2 separate regions of the Homo sapiens genome follow, and region 2 is linked to region 1. Evidence: fine-mapped expression QTL. Tissue or cell type: whole blood. Region 1 holds a variant in brackets; the other region holds the start of a gene. All regions are shown on one strand. Distances are from middle to middle.

Region 1 (8,072 bases):
TTTGAAATATTTGTTCCACCTCCTTCCCGCCTTGAGAATGAGGAGCAGGGAGAGCAGGACGGAGGCGAGCAGGTAGAAGATGAAGCCGTAGAGGCCGGTGAGGCCGAGGATGCCGGCCGTGGCCCCCGACAGCGCTGACACCGAGGTCCGGCAATAATCCAGGACGGCGGCGTTGCCCCGCACGGCCGCCTCGCTGATGAACGGCGGCCCTTCCCGCTTGGCCACCACCGCGGCCATCGCACCAGCCCGGGCTCGGCCTCTCGCTTTCTCGCGGAACAACGCGGAGCTGCGGAGAAAACCAAGTTACAAGTGGCGCCCGGAGCTCGGTGAGTTGGGTTCACGCCGCCCCCTCCCCCTGGAGCTTCCGAGACCTGGCACCAGTCCTGGGCCTCGGATCTTCCAAAGACGCCGAGGAGATTGAGGGTCCGGGCCGGCCGGGAGGTGGTGGCGCGTCTGCGTTCCCCGGCCACGGTGGCCCAGTTACCTGGAACACGGCGCCGGACACACTACTTAGCGTTCCCTCAGACGGGCAGTGGAAGAAATGCCCGCGGCGCCATCTTGCTCGGAAGACTGCCGGGAGGTCTCGGGCTGCGCACGCGCCCAGATCCCGCCCCGCCCTCCGCGCCTGCGCCGTGGGCGCCCCGGACACGCTCCGCCCTCTGCCCGCTTTTCTGCGCACGCGCAGGGACTTCCGAAAGCGGAGTGGCGCTCCGGCCAGTGATTGGCTGGAGGTTTGTTAACTATTCATGAGGGGGCGGGCCGAGCGGGGCGGCCTTTGTTAAGCAGCGAGGGCGCGACCGCGGGTACTCTGCTGCCGGCTTCTCGGAGCGGCGCTGGGCGACCAGAGCAGGGTCGAGATGTCCTACATCCCGGGCCAGCCGGTCACCGCCGTGGTGGTGAGTGCGCTTGCGCGGGCTCCTCCTCGTCTTGGCCTGACCCCACCTCGCAGAGCGGGAAACGGACACCCCAAGCAGGTTGACAGAGCATCGAACCCGGGGCTCCTGCGAACCGGCGGCAAGGGCTCGGGTCCCCGCTTTGCCGGAGCGGGCCGCAGTTCCCCCAGCCACGAAACAGGGATGGCCGGGACCCGAGAGCCTCCCGAGACCCTGGACAGAGCCCAGACTGCGTGCGCAGGGCGGGGAGGGCCACGGGGAAAGGCCTGGCTGCAGGAGCCTGGAAAAGCGCCCCCTTCCCGGGCCTCCGTGTCCCCAGACGGGGAGCTGCTGGGGGCGGGCGCCGATCCCGACGTCCATGAGTCGCAGCCTCTGGAATGAGGAAATGCTTCCTCCGCTGCAGCCTGCGCCGCCGCCCGGAGGGAGATCTGGGGGTGGGGCTCTCCCGAGCCTGCCGTGGCAGCCCCTGCCCCCTTCCTGTCCAGCCTTGCTCCTCCAACCCACTCGCCGCCTGGTCCAGGGTGGACGCTCGTATAGCTGCGATGAGCGTTTCCTCTTCGAACTTTTCCTGGGTCTCCAGCCCTTAAGGCAAAAAAGTCCAGGCCTCCCTCCTGGCACTTGAGTCCTGAGTAGACCCTCCGGGGGCTAGCCTAGGCCCCTGGCCGCCCTCTGGCTTGTTTTAGGTGCTGGGTGCTATTAGACTAGGCAGAGGGAGGAAGGAAGGCTGGGACGTTAGACTCAGACGCCGGTGTCACAGAGGGACACAACCCTATGACAGAGGTGGGGAGTCCCAGAGAGAAGTGCTCAGCCAGAAAAGACCACCTCAGGAAAGACTCAGGTCTCCTGCCTACCTCCCGACAGCGTTCAGAGAATGAGAAGAAATGCCTGCCCGGTGGGCAGTAGGTCAAGCGAAAGTCCCCGCCCTGGAGCCATAGGGACTGGGTGTGTTATCTCAGTTGGGTGTGCTGGAGAAGCTCCAGCAATCAGGTGGGTGGAGGCAGAGAAGCCACTGATAAAGGCGACAAGTGAGGCTGAGCTTAGAGCACTGGCTCAGGCCTGGGCCAGGAGGAAACATTGCTGGACCAGCTGACAGCTGTCCTAAGCTTCACCCTCCCTGCACCAGCTTGACTTTTTTTTTTTTTTTTTTTTTGAGACAGTCTTGCTCTGTCGCCCAGGCTGGAGTACAGTGGCGCGATCTCGGTTCATTGCAACCTCCGCCTCCTGGGTTCAAGCGATTCTCCTGCCTCAGCCTCCCGAGTAGCTGGGATTACAGGCATGCACCAGCATGCCCAGCTAATTTTTGTATTTTTAGTAGAACGGGGTTTCACCATGTTGGCCAGGCTTGTCTTGAACTCCTGACCTCTGGTGATCCACCTGCCTCAGCCTCCCAAAGTGCTGGGATTACAGGCGTGAGGCACCACACCCGGCCCAGCCTGGCTTTTTTAGATCCCTACCTGCCCCAGAGAGAAGGCACCAGGTTTGCTCTTTAGGTAGAAGGGGGGCAGGGACAGGTGAGGAGCTACAGCAAGCCACCTTCTGCGTGACCTCACCCAGCAAATCAGTGACAGCCCTGTCTCCCAACCCAAGGGCCTGTAATCTTCTGACCGTGCCGGCAGAGCAGGCCTGGAGGAGCTCAGTTTGGGGCATGAGGACCCAGGCACAGTAGGCCTCATGCTTCCTGCCCCCCTCCCTCACGCCATAACTGGTCCCAGGGCCTTCCCCAAAACTGCAGGCCCATGCCCCCTAATTCTGGTAACACCAGGAACGTGCCTGGACATGGTGTGTATGGTCTGGCCTCTCCCTCGAGTCTTGGATTGGGGATGGGTTTGGGCAGGCTCACTCCCCAGTCCCCACCCTCTCCCATGTAGAATCCTGAGAATATTAAAGACATTTAGGCCATTCTTCTGAACCCTGGCTCCATAGATCCATCTGCCTTCTGGACACCTGCCCCGCAGCTCCTGGCACTCCAACCTAACCTGCTCCTCCTCCTCCTGGGTCCCCATCTGAATAATGTGTGTTCAGCCAGGCACGGTGGCTGGGTGCTCCTCTTGACTCCTCTCCTCCATGAGTGGTCCCTAAGTCTGTAGATCTCCATTTTCAGGTAGCTCCATGTCCCCCGGCCTCTGCACCTTGCTTTTGTGAGATGTCCGTTCCTCTACTGATTACCTGAGTGGTCATTCTAGCAGCAAACCTGACCATGCCCTACCCTACTCCGTTCCTGAGAACTCCAGTGGGTTCAGGATCAAGGTCAGGCTACCCATCACCCCCTCAAAGCCTGGTGCAAATAATCCTCCCTTTGGGAAACTTCTTTAGGTCTAGTCTAGATTGTGGTCTTCTGCTTTTTTCTTTTCTCCTTCCTGTTAAAACTTGACTTTGGGAGTGATCTGGTCTGGCTCCCAGCATCTGCTGACTGGACGGCGCTTGCCAAGGGCTTTGAAAAGAACCTGGCACAGTTGGGGACCATAGCCCCAGAGCATGGTGGGAACACCCCAGAGCATGGTGGGAATGCCCCAGAACACTCGTTTCTGCACAAGAGCAGGGTCTGGGGCTTAGGGAGACACCCCTGCTCCCCTTCCAGGACGGGATCTGGCCCCAGCCTTACACTTTCAGCCTCATCTCGCCTCCCAGTTCTGTGTCCTGCACTGGACACTCCAGTCTCACGAACACGTATCCACGGCACCCTGTGCGCTGGTCCCCGTGGCCGGCAAGCCCTTCCTCTCCTTTCTTTTTTTTTTTTTTTTTTTTTTTGGAGCCCAGAGATCCTTTATTTTTTTTT[G/TTG]TTTAACACCTATTATGCCATGAATTCATAGGGAATAGGTTCCAGCAGCTCAGGCGCCTTCCCGTTGGTTCTCACAAAGTGTGCTTCCCTGGGTGGAGCAGGCTGGTGCTTTAGTTGAACCCAGGTACCTTTCTCTTTGGCTTCTTTCTTTTTCTGATCATTTTCCTTCACGCGTTCCAGGAAGCTATCTCGGCTCTTAGAGTGCTTTATGTGCTCAATACGCACATTAATTCTCTTGGCAAGAATCTTGCCCTTAACTTGTTTGTTTACAACAATGCCAACAGCATGCTGGGGAACATTGTAGACTCTTCCAGTTTTGCCATGGTAACCCTTGTGGGGCATTCCTTTTTGAACAGTACCCATTCCCTTGATGTCTACAGTATCACCTTTCTTATAGATTCGCATATATGTGGCCAAAGGAACATCTCCATGTTTTCTAAAAGGCCTAGAGAACATATATCCGGTGCCTCTCCTCTTTCCCTTTGTGTTCGTCATTTTGGCGAATTACTGGAAGATGGCGGTTCCGGCCGAAAGGAAACCCCTTCCTCTCCTTTCTATGCAAGTTTGATCTCTGCTTTTCCAGAGCACCTCCTGTGAGACGGGCTTCCCACCTACAGAAGCCACAGCACCTGGACTCTTGGGCCAGCAGGGGCTTCCACCACATGTTGACCAAGACTAGTGCCTAAGACTAACAGGGGAAGTGGGGACAGGTTGAGGACACAGGGCTGTGTGGGTGGATCAATGTGGCCAAGTTCTGAGTGCCAGCTCCTCAGCCTCCCAGGCTGGTGAGCAGCTGGATTCCTGCAGGGGCCTGGGACCCAGCCCCTTGTCATGGCTCTGAGGCTGCTGCTGGGAACACCCACCAGCCTAATTCTCCAACCACCCACTTCTCTCAACTGGCTTTTTTCTTTGCCAGCAAAGAGTTGAAATTCACAAGCTGCGTCAAGGTGAGAACTTAATCCTGGGTTTCAGCATTGGAGGTGGAATCGACCAGGATCCTTCCCAGAATCCCTTCTCTGAAGACAAGACGGACAAGGTGAGGGGGTCTGGGGTCCTGGGACCGCTCCATGGGGCACAGGGGCCTGAGATGGTGGGTCTCTGCTTCCTGGGCCTGCATGGAAGGAACAGACTTCATCTCTCAAACCATGCTCTCTAAGAAGGCATCGGAAGTGACCTAGTGAGAATAAGGACGGGTGGGGTGAGGAAGGGCTGCTCAGACAGAGCCCAGGAGGAGCAGGAGGCGGCCATCAGCAGGGCCGGTGCATGGTGGTGCAGCAACTCTGCCCCGGCTCTCTCAGAACAGTCCTCACTGACCATATGTGCTGGGAGAGGCTGGGTGCAGGGACAGAGGGACGGCTGAGAATGTGCCATGCTGGCTTCCGCTGTGTGATAAGGGGCCAGTCCAGTGACCACAGGGCTTGACTTGGGCTGCCCCTTTCCAGGGTATTTATGTCACACGGGTGTCTGAAGGAGGCCCTGCTGAAATCGCTGGGCTGCAGATTGGAGACAAGATCATGCAGGTAACAGGTGTCCCAAAGGAGGAGAAACAAGGTTTGGGCAAGCAGGTCTGAAGCACTTGGGGGTGGGGAGCTGCCCCAGCCTCCCAGCTGGGAGAGACTCACTGCAGCCAATTGGGAACCCATACTGGCATTGCCCCAGAGGACGCTGGCTTTCTCTCCTGTGTGTCTCAGCCACAGTGCTTGGTGTCTCCCAGCCCTGGGATGTTAGGCTGGGGGCCTACTTGAATGACCTGGGCCCCCAAAGCCCTCTGCTTCCAGATCCCAGAGGGCGGGGAGCTGAGGTGAGCCTGTGTTCTCTCCTGGGGCCAGGTGAACGGCTGGGACATGACCATGGTCACACACGACCAGGCCCGCAAGCGGCTCACCAAGCGCTCGGAGGAGGTGGTGCGTCTGCTGGTGACGCGGCAGTCGCTGCAGAAGGCCGTGCAGCAGTCCATGCTGTCCTAGCAGCCACCACCATCTGCGACTCCTGCCTGCCGCCTCTCTGTACAGTAACGCCACTTCCACACTCTGTCCCCATCTGGCTTCTGCTGACCGCTGGGCCCCAGCTCAGAAGGGCTATAGCTGGTCCCAGAGGCCTGGCCTGGCCTTCCTTCCCTTCTCCCATCCCTGGCCTGGGGCCTCTGGGACCGGCTTTCTCTCCTGGACACCGAGGATTGGAAATAAGGGCCTGGAGCTGAGTAGTAGCCAGTCTGCTGTGACCACAGGCTCAGGTCCGACCCTGCTGCTTGGCCACAGCAGTGGCTGGGCAAGTGGGAACCACTATCTCTTGGGAGCCCCCAAAAGCTGGGAAATGCTGGAGGAACCAGGCCTTTCCCGCTTTTGCCTGGCTGCAGGGTTCGGCTCCGCCCCTGCCCCCCAGCCCTCGTGTGTCCACACCGCAGTGCCTCTGCCCCTCGGGGGACTGGACACACATCCTGCCAGAGGCGCTACGAAGCTTTGCCCAGATGAAGCCAGGTGGGCTCCGCGTTCACTCCCACTCTCCCGAGGGGTGCTGGCCTCCCCAGGGTTTGCCTTCTTACGGATTTAGACGAGGTTCGAGGCTCACCTATCAGGGCAGCTCTCAGGATTGTCATTTTCCTCTTTGCCTGTGGGTTTAACTTTTGTATTTTTTTAATCACAAGTTTGATACAAAATGTTTTTATCGTACTCTTTGGAGATGCCCATTCTACTTTTGAATTTAGCTTTTACTAATTCGCATCTGGAAGCTCAGCAAGTGCACAAGCCTTACTTTGGTTACCGTGGAAACCACTGCCGCCCCTCCCCGATGTGGTGCGCTCAATAAAAATGCTGGAATTCACAGGGGGCTTTGCTGAGGCATGGGCTGGGATATCGGGGTGGGGGTGGCGGTGGGATATTGGGGCCAGAGCTGTGGTTTTAATGATGGCCCCATCCCCCACTGTTCTGGGACAAAGCTCAACTACTCCCAGGCCCACCTGCCTGAAAGCCCGGGGCTGGTGGAGCCGCAGCAGCTGCACTGCGCCTGACCAGAACCACATCTGTGGGAGTGTCTGGGAGCACTGGGGTGGGACCCTGGGGTGCGTGTGCTTTCTTGGGTGTTACTGTGAAGCCCCTACTTGCTCCCAACCTCCTTTTTGCAACCTAGCCTCAGCTCCCACCTGGGAGGGGCCGTAGGGACACCCAGAGGTGCCTGGGAGAGACCCCTGCCTATAAGACTCCCTGCCTATAAGGGCACTCCGTGTATCCCAGCGAGGGACACAACCCCACGTGTTGCTGGGGGCCGTGATCTGGCCAGATGGGGGTGAGTCAGAGAGCACCTGACTACCTGCGTACCACCTCTGGGAAGGTGTTAGCACTCCTGGACCTACCTAGCACTGCCAAATCAGATTTTAAAGAAAAGTCAATAATTTTTTTTTTTTTTTGAGATGGAGTTTCGTTCTTGTTGCCCAGGCTGGAGTGCAATGGCGTGATCTTCGCTCACTGCAACCTCCGCCTCCTGGGTTCAAGTAATTCTCCTGCCTCAGCCAACCAAGTAGCTGGGATTACAGGTGCCCGCCACCATGCCCAGCTAATTTTTGTATCTTTAGTAGAGATGGGGTTTTGCAATGTTGGCTAGGCTGGTCTCGAACTCCTGATGTCAGGTGATCCATCTGCCTTGGCCTCCCAAAGTGCTGGGATTACAGGCGTGAGCCACCGCACTCAGCCGGAAAAGTCAATCATTTGAAATCTCTGATTTTTAAAGTAGGGCACCCAGTAACACATTTACTGGGTGTTGCAAGTGAAACAGGTCTGTGGACCCCGTCAGGCCAAAGTCTGCTCTGCAGAAACAAGACCTGACATTCTTTGACGTTTGTTACAACTAGATAGAGGAAGCGTCTGGAGAATAAGACCCCCACTGCCCCCGCTCCCAGTGCTGGTGTGCCCTTCAGAACCTCATCCACCCCGGCTCACATCCAGATTGAGTGGCGTGCCCTGGTAACCGTGAAGACACGGAGCCTGGGAGACTGACCTGGCCCTGGGCGGGTAGGCGTCTCGCGCTACCCAAGAGGGCTCCCCAGTGAAGTGTGGGGTCAGCACGCAGCGCTCTCGGGTCAGTGACCTTCACAACCTTATGCGCTTCCTTACACGAGGGGAGCAGGGCACCTGGCTCTGAAGGCCAGCACACCTGCCTTCTGTATCGAGCACACAGAGTGCAGAAAGGAAGCGAGTAGGTTTTAATTCAAGATACAGGCCCCTCGCGTTGATCTCGTAGAAGGAAACTCAGTGGACTGACAAGCTCAAGTCATGTATGAGGCACGTCCTGGGACCCCCACCCCTCCTGCCATAGGAAGGACAGCTTTGGGCAGAGGGAAGGAGGTTTGAGATCAGGGTTGGGCCCATACAGATTGTGTGAGGTGGTCTCAAGTACAAATACTTATCTGA
Region 2 (8,067 bases), 31 kb before region 1:
CTTCCTTCCTTTCTTTCTTTCTTTCTTTCTTTTTTCTTTTTCTTTCTCTCTCTCTCTCTCTTTCTCTCTTTCTTTCTTTCTTAGATGGAGTATCACTCTGTCACCCAGGCTGGAGTGCAGTGGCGCGATCTTGGCTCACTGCAAGCTCCACCTCCTGGGTTCAAGCGATTCTCCTGTCTCAGCCTCCTGAGTAGCTGGGACTATAGGCGTGTGCCACCAGGCCTGGCTAATTTTTGTATTTTTCATAGAGAGGGGGTTTCACCATGTTGGTTAGGCTGGTCTCAAACTTTTGACCTCGTGATCTACCTGCCTCGGCCTCCCAAACTGCTGGGATGACAGGTGTGAGCCACTGCATCCGGCAATATTTTCTATTTATTTGCGATAATTGCTCACTACAGTGTTGAACTCCCAGGCTCAAGAGATCCTCCTACCTCAGCCTCCTGAGCAGCTAGGACTACAGGTGTGCACCATCCCACCTGGTCAATTTTTTTTAAGAAGCAGGGTCTCTATCATACAGGCTGGAGTGCAGTGGTGCAATAATGGCTCACTGCAGCCTCAACCCACCTGGGCTCAGGTGATCCTCCTGCCTCAGCCTCCCAAGCAGCTGGGACCACAAGTGTGCACGACCACATCCAGCTAATTTTTTATTTTTTGTATAGAAGGGGTCTCCCTATGTTGCCCAGGCTGGTCTTGAACTCCTGGGCTCAAGCAATCCTCCTGCCTTGGCCTCCCAAGGTGCTAGGATTAAAGGCATGAGCCACTGTGCCTGACTTGGCTAGTTATATATATAGGTGTGTGTGTGTGTGTGTGTGTGTGTGTGTGTGTGTGTGTGTCTGTCTATATATATAGACAAAGTTTTGCTATGTTGCCCAGGCTGGTCTTGAACTCCTGGGCTCAAGCGGTTCTGCTGCTTCAGCCTCCCAAAGTGCTGGGATTACAGGCATGAGCGCCTGTGCCCAACCTATTTTTTTTAATGCTGGTTGTCGCCCAGTAATTTGATGTCATGCCTCACCAGTGGGTCTGGATCTAGTCTCTGAAGCTGTGCAGTAAGGGACCCCGTAAGGATGGGCCTGGTCCTGTCCCCGAGAGCCCTGTCCCCTCTAGATGCCCCTCATGTGGTCTCTAAAGCTTCAGGACAGTTCCGTCAGAAGTTGCAGCCTGGTCTTGGCTGTGCCGTGGGGAGTTCAGGAGGGGCTGCCTGTACTGGAGGGGAAGTCAGAGCAGAGCCCTTCTCTAAAGCCACAGTGGCAGTTAAGACAGGACATGGAGGGCAAGTGCCTGGCAGTTCAGCCTCTCCAGTAGCACACAAAGGTTTGATGAATCAAGAACAGCAGAGTGCCTGGGACTGGGGCTAGTGGTAGGCTCTGCTCTGGGGCCTCACTTACTCACCCCTTCCCTAATCACCCCAGAAAAATGAAGGTCCTGGTCTCTAAAGACCCCTTCAAAGAACAAACAGGCCCTGGAACAAAACCTGGAACTCCCTTGGGGAGTGGAGAGACTCAATGTGGCACCATCTCTGTGACACTCATGTTGTCCTGTGCTGGGGTTGATGGGCAAGCTCTTCTCCAGGGCAGATGCAATTCAGGCGACTCCTGTGAGACTCTGAAAGTCCACCTCCCCTCTATACCTTACCCTGGAGCAGCACTGTCAGGGTGACGGGCATCTTCTTAGGGGTGATGTCACTCGGTGGCGGCTGCTTTAGTGAGCATTGGAGTGCTGTGTTAGCAGGGGGCTGAGGAGGAGGCTGGCAGGAGAGCCAAGATGACTTCAGCCCCTAAAATTCGCAGTCATGACTGGGGCAGGGTGGAATCGAAATGCCCTCCCTGTTGAAAAAAAAAAAAATCAGGGCCAGGTTTGTCCACTCATTCAATAATATGTCTAGAACTATTATGTGGCAGGCACAGGGACATACAGAGATGTCCAAAGGCATGGTCCCTGCTCTCCGGGAGCTTCTGGTCTTAGCATGGGACACAGTCACTAAGTCAACGAGATCCTACTGGATAGTGACAGGTGCTCTAAGGGAATAAGATGAGATAATGGGATAGAAAGTGGCTGGGCTGGGACTGGGGGCTACTTTGGGTGGGCAATAATAACAGGCCTTTTTGAAGAAATGGCAGTTGAGTTGAAATGGATGAAAAGATGCAAAGATCCACGCTTTCCCAAATGACAGTTTGAGAGCAAAATACAGGTTCCCAGCCCCATCTTAGATTTCGTGAATGAAAATTTGAGGGGCAGGGCCTAGGAATTTGCCTTTTTTTCTTCCACATGATTCCCATGCACTTTGAAACTGGACACCTTCCTTGGGGCTTTTACTTTAGAATCACACTGATGAATTTCAGGGTACCTTCCAGTTCCCCGAGTCTGTGGCTTAGGGAAGGGAGCCTCTTTGTGTGTGAAAGCCAGGGGTAGGGAGAGGAGCAGGACTGCTTGTGGTCAGACTGCAGGATGCAGAAAATAAGCGTGCGCAGCTCCTCACCACACCGCGCTCACCCAGGGCCCTGCGTCTTTGGCTGTCAGGAGTTCTAAACCTGCCCCCCCGGAGGCCCTCCCTCATCCCACTCCCACTCCTGTTGAATTCCACATACTGAGAGGGTTGCAGTCATAGCTGCATGGATCAGTTCTATTTCTTGTGCGTTGGGAACCATTCCAAACAGTTGGTACATGCGCACTCTCCAGGCATATTTTTAGGATCCTAGGGTGGGTTGCCTGTGTCTCCCCGCCCCCACCCCGTCTGCCCCCCACCCCCGCACCATCCGCCCTGAGTGTGGGAGGGAGGTCTTCATGCTGCCGGCACTCGGGACCTGCCTGACCACCGACTCCGCCGGAGTGTGGGCTTTTAAACCTGCAGCAGCTGCTGCAGTAGAAACGCGCATTAGTCGCAGCAGACACAGGCAGCCTCAGGTGGGACAAGTCTTGTCTCTTCCAGCCTGTGGGGGAGCCACGGCTTCCCCCCCACAACCACCCCCTGCCCACGGAGCAAGAATGTATCTCCCTGGCAGGAGACCTGGCGCGAGGTGAATGGAGAAACCTGTTGTGTCCCCTTCCTTCCTCCCCTGGCCTCAGTTCCCCATCTATTCAATAGGAAGAACCCTTTGGGATTTCTTTGCGAGAGAAAGGGGAGTTTTGCTTTAAACGGAGCTCTTCCCGGCCGTGCGCGGTGGCTCACGCCTGTAATCCCAGCACTTTGGGAGGCCGAGGTGGGCGGATCACCTGAGGTCAGGAGTTCAAGACCAGCCTGGCCAACATGGTGAAACCCCGTCTCTACTAAAAATACAAAAATTATCACGCCTGTAGTCCCAGCTACTTGGGAGGCTGAGGCAGGAGAATCGCTTGAACCCGGGAGGCGGAGGTAGCAGTGAGCTGAGATCGCACCACTGCACTCCAGCCTCGGCGACAGAGCGAGGCTCCGTCTCAAAAATAAATGAATAAATAAATTTAAAATAAAATAAAAAGGAGCCCTTCCCCCTTTCACTTCCTCTCCTCCGCGATCGCTGCTTTCAGCTGGGCAACAGCACAGGGCGGTCCTGCGCATCCGGGGGGCTGCGCTCCCAGACCGGTGGCTGGGGAGTAGGTTGCAGGGGTGTCACTGTGTCAGGGGAGGAGGAGGAGGAGGAGGAAGAAGAGGTAGCGGCAAGGTCGCGGTCTGAGGTTCCGGTGCTCGCCGCCGCCCAGCTCCCAGCCGAGGCTTTCTCAACCGCGTCAATAAAAGGCCGCCCCGACCCGCCCCCGCGCCCCGCAGCCCTGCCGGACACCCCGGGCTGCAGCTGAGCGGGCGCAGACGGGCCGAGGCGGGCGCCGGGCGCGCAGGGACCGAGGGACCGAGTGCTCCCCATGAGCGCACGTGGGCCGGGCGGTCCGCAAGCCCGGCTGAGAGCGCGCCATGGGGCAGGCGGGCTGCAAGGGGCTCTGCCTGTCGCTGTTCGACTACAAGACCGAGAAGTATGTCATCGCCAAGAACAAGAAGGTGGGCCTGCTGTACCGGCTGCTGCAGGCCTCCATCCTGGCGTACCTGGTCGTGTAAGTTCTCCGCGGACTTTTGGGAAGGCGGGGGAGGGGCAGGGCGGGTGCCAGCCGCCGCGTCCTTCTCCAGGGTCCTGGAATTCGCAGGCGTGCACGCGGTTTTCCCGGTAGCTGGGGGTCTGTGAGCCTGCTTGCTGTGGGGGTCCTCTTTGGGTCCTTGGGTGTAGGAGTAGGGTGTAGAGAGGGGGCTCTCCACTCCCCCACTGGCGCTAGAGGTGATGAGAGGTGGGCAGGGGCCTTCTGGTTTCCTCGATTTATCAGGCTTTCCCTGCAGCTGCTTCTCCCAGAGTCGGGTCCCCACGTGTTAGGGCCATGGGAAGGGGGCAGGGATGCCAGGGGGCTGGGTGGCAGCTGTCGCCCCAGGAGCCTCCCTGGGCCTTGGCCTGGCAGCTGACCCAGGCGCCGGCAGGTTATTTATAATCACAGGGTGTCACTGCCTACTCAGAGCTGGAGAAACTCATCAGCCCGGCATGTTCCTGAGCTCCCTTCCGGTCAACTTGCCCCACCCGCGGCCAGCCTCTCTGGTGTCCAGCTGGGGGTCCTGCCCAGAGGCCTCTATCTCTGCACCCAGCTCGGCCATCCCCTTCCCCCATCCTCATGCCACCTGGCAGGAGCTGGCGCCACAAAGCCAAAGAGGCAACTTGTGGAGGCTGCTCTGCCAGGCGCCTTCAGAGCCCTGACCCCGGGGTGGGTCGGGGGTGAGCAGGTGGAGGGGAGAAGCAGCGCTGGACAATGGGGATGCGCCTCATTCCACTCGTTCAGTAAATGCGGTGGAGTTCCTCCTGCTTCCTCCTGGGAGGGCAGCCCTGACGCCTGGCTCTCCCTCGGAGGTCCAGCAGTCCGCGTTCTCTGAGCTGCATCCCCAGGCCCCTGGCCGCCTCCCACCTGAGCGGCCTCGTAGGCGCTGTGCTGTTGCTCAGCCAGGCCTGCCCGTCCTCCTCCACTCCCTTAGCATCCACTCAGCCCCCAGATCTGGGCTTTCCAGTAACTCCCTCTCCCTTCCTCCCTGGCCTTCCCACAGTGTAATTATTGGGCTTATTTGGGGGATCATTTGCCTGATGTCGCTGTCAGTCCGGGAATGCCCTGAGGGTGGGGCCCCAGCAGCACTTAACTGCTTAGGGAATAGATGTGAAATGAACGCATGAATGAATAAATGGAGTTGCTTTTGCTTGAACAATAGAAATTTAATTCTCGCAGTCCTGGATGTGGAAATCTGAGACGAGGGTGGTAGCATGGTTCGGGGTCTCAGGGGGGGCTCTCTCCTTGGCTTGCAGATGGCCACCCTCTCGCTGTGTCCTCACATGGCAGGGAAAGCAGGACATATTTAACTAAGTACAAGTATGAAAATTAGGAAATTGGCGGCCGGGCGCTGTGGCTCATGCCTATAATCCCAGCCCTTTGGGAAGCCGAGGTGGGTGGATCACCTGAGGTCAGGAGTTCGAGACCAGCCTGGCCAACATGGAGAAACCCTGTTTCTACTAAAAATACACAACAATTAGCTGGGCATGATAGTGGCGCCTGTAATCCCAGCTAATCGGGAGGCTGAGGCAGGAGAATCTGTCTCTATGGATTTGCCTATTCTGGGTATTTCGTATAAATGAAATTGTATAGTATGCGGCCTTTTTTTTTTTTTTTCTGGCTTCTTTCACTTGGTGTCATGTTTTCAAGGTTCACCCATGTTGTGGCATCTATCAGCCCTCCATTCCTCTCTGTGGCTGATACTATCCTGCCGTGTGGGGCTGCCACATTGTGGTCATGCATTCATCAGCTGATGGACATTTGGGTGGTTTTCACACCGCTGAGTGTAGTGGCTCATGCCTGTAACCCCAGCACTTTGGGAGAGGAGACCGCGGTGGCTGGATCACTTGAGGTCAGGAGTTCAAGGCTAGCCTGACCAACGTGGTAAAACCCCGTCTCTACTAAAAATTCAAAAATTGGCTGGGTGTGGTGGCGAGCGCATGTAATCTCAGCTACTCGCACCAGTGCACTCCAGCAGCCTGGGCAGCAGAGCAAGACTGTCTCAAAAAAAAAAAAAGAAGAAGAATGCTTCTGAGAACATTCATGTACAAGTTTTTTGTGAACATGTTTTCAATTTTTCAATTTTTAATTATTATTATTATTATTTTTGAGATGGAGTTTCGCTCTTGTTGCCCAGGCTGGAGTGCAATGGCATGATCTCAGCTCACTACAACCTCTGCCTCCTGGGTTCAAGAGATTCTCCTGCCTCAGCCTCTGGATTAACTGGGATTACAGGCATGGGCCACCATGCCTGGCTAATTTTTGTATTTTTTTAGTAGACACGGAGTTTCACCATGTTGGTCAGGCTGGCCTCGAACTCCTGACCTCAGGTGATCCACCTGCCTTGGCCTCCCAAAGTGCTGGGATGACAGGCGGGAGCCACTGTGCCTGGCCATGTTCTCAATCTCTTGGGAATTTTCTGGCTTATCTGGTAACTCGATCCTTAACCTTTTGAGGAACTGCTAAACTGTTTTCTACCATAACTACCTCATTTTACATCCCTATCAGTGATATACGGGGGTTCTAATTTCTTCACAACCTCATCAACACCTGTTATCTGTAGGGTTTTTAAAAAATGATAGCCATCCTAGTGGAAGTGAAGTGGTGTTTTATTGTGGTTTTGATTTGTATTTCCCTAATGACCAATGGTGTTTGTCATCTTTTCATATGCTTAATTGGGCATTTGTGTATCTCTCTCTCTCTTTTTTTTTTTTTTTTTTGAGAAATGTCTATTCAAATCCTTTGCTCATTTTTAAATTGGATTATTTGGCTTTTTATTGTTAAATTATAAGAGTTTTTTGTATCTTCTGGATACTAAACCCTTACCAGCTACATTATTTCAAATGTTTTCTCCCATTCTGTGGGTTGTCTTTTCACTTTCTTGAGAGTGTCTTTTGATGCATGAACATTTTAAATTTTTATGAAGTCCAACTTACCTATTTTTTCTTTTATTGCTTGCGTTTTTAGTGTCAACAAGTATGGGATTTGTACTCTTATTTCATTTTTTTGTTGTTGTTTTTGAGGCTGGGTCTCACCCTGTCACCTGGGCACAATCATGGCTCACTGCAGCCTCGACCTCCCAGGCTCGAGGGATCCTCCCACCTCAGCCTCCCGAGTAGCTGGGACGACAGGCTGGTGCCACCATGCCTAGATTACTTTTTTGTTTTTCATAGAGATGGGGTCTCACTGTGTTGCCCCGGCTGGTCTCAAACTCCTGGGCTCAAGCGATCCTCCTGCCTTGGTCTCCCAAAGTGCTAGGAGTACAGGCGCGAGCCACCGTGCCTGGCCTGTACTCTTATTTTGTAGAATGCCCCTCAGTTTGGGTTTGTTTGAGGTCTCCTCGTGATTGGTTTCAGGTTAGGCACCATCACAACCCCAGAGGGAGGCGCTGTCACCCCATGTTATGTATGGGAAATTGGCTTGCCTGGGGTCACCAAACCAGTATGTGGCTTCAGCCCAGGCTTGTCCACTTGGGGCCTCTGAGTGGACAGTGGTCTTTGCCTCTTTTATTTATTTATTTATTTATTTTTTGAGACAGAATCTCACTCTGTCGCCCAGGCTGGAGTGCAGTGGTGCGATCTCTGCTTACTGCAAGCTCTGCCTCCCGGGTTCACGCCATTCTCCTGCCTCAGCCTCCTGAGTAGCTGGGACTACAGGCGCCCACCACCACGCCTGGCTAATTTTTTGTATTTTTTTTTTTTTTTTTGAGTAGAGACAGGGTTTCACTGTGTTAGCCAGGATGGTCTCAATCTCCTGACCTTGCGATCTGCCTGCCTCGGATTATAGGCGTGAGCCACTGCGCCCGGCTGGTCTTTGCCTCTTCAGGGCCCCCATCTCTAGGGTTGCTTGTCGCCTCTGCTGCTTGCAGGACTGGGTTTCAGTCAGCAGTGGGAGCTGTGGCCCCTGCCCAGGAGCTGGTGGGACAGGTGGAGCCCTGAGCCTGCTCCACCTCAACTAGGAGTTGCTGTGACTGCTACCCCACCCCAAGGCCTGGGGAAGCTCCCCGAAGCCAGCAGAGTGGCTGATGCC

What was found. PIP is the estimated chance that this variant, and not a neighbour inherited with it, causes the effect.
Region 2: P2RX5 starts here. The variant in region 1 is fine-mapped to the expression of P2RX5 in whole blood (INTERVAL, PIP above 0.99).

The regions. Positions count from the first base shown.
Region 1 is chr17:3,661,312-3,669,383 of GRCh38, reverse strand. CTNS (cystinosin, lysosomal cystine transporter) reads right to left here. Exons shown (of 12, transcript NM_004937.3): 12 at 6,281-8,072. It overlaps TAX1BP3 (Tax1 binding protein 3), which reads left to right and starts at 806. Exons shown (of 4, transcript NM_014604.4): 1 at 806-896; 2 at 4,586-4,705; 3 at 5,112-5,189; 4 at 5,499-6,489. The coding sequence starts at 858. The coding sequence ends at 5,636. It overlaps EMC6 (ER membrane protein complex subunit 6), which reads right to left and starts at 572. Exons shown (of 2, transcript NM_031298.4): 1 at 485-572; 2 at 1-286. The coding sequence starts at 237. P2RX5-TAX1BP3 (P2RX5-TAX1BP3 readthrough (NMD candidate)) reads left to right here. Exons shown (of 15, transcript NR_037928.1): 12 at 1-326; 13 at 4,586-4,705; 14 at 5,112-5,189; 15 at 5,499-6,491. It also overlaps the pseudogene RPL21P125. RefSeq lists enhancers at 1-417, 950-1,480, 1,481-2,012 and a silencer at 519-858. The variant G/TTG (reference allele first, on the strand shown) is at 3,670.
Region 2 is chr17:3,691,819-3,699,885 of GRCh38, reverse strand. P2RX5 (purinergic receptor P2X 5) reads left to right here and starts at 3,731. Exons shown (of 12, transcript NM_002561.4): 1 at 3,731-4,017. The coding sequence starts at 3,881. It overlaps P2RX5-TAX1BP3 (P2RX5-TAX1BP3 readthrough (NMD candidate)), which reads left to right and starts at 3,482. Exons shown (of 15, transcript NR_037928.1): 1 at 3,482-4,017. RefSeq lists a silencer at 3,502-3,861 and enhancers at 3,982-4,031, 4,144-4,660, 5,631-5,680, 6,081-6,130.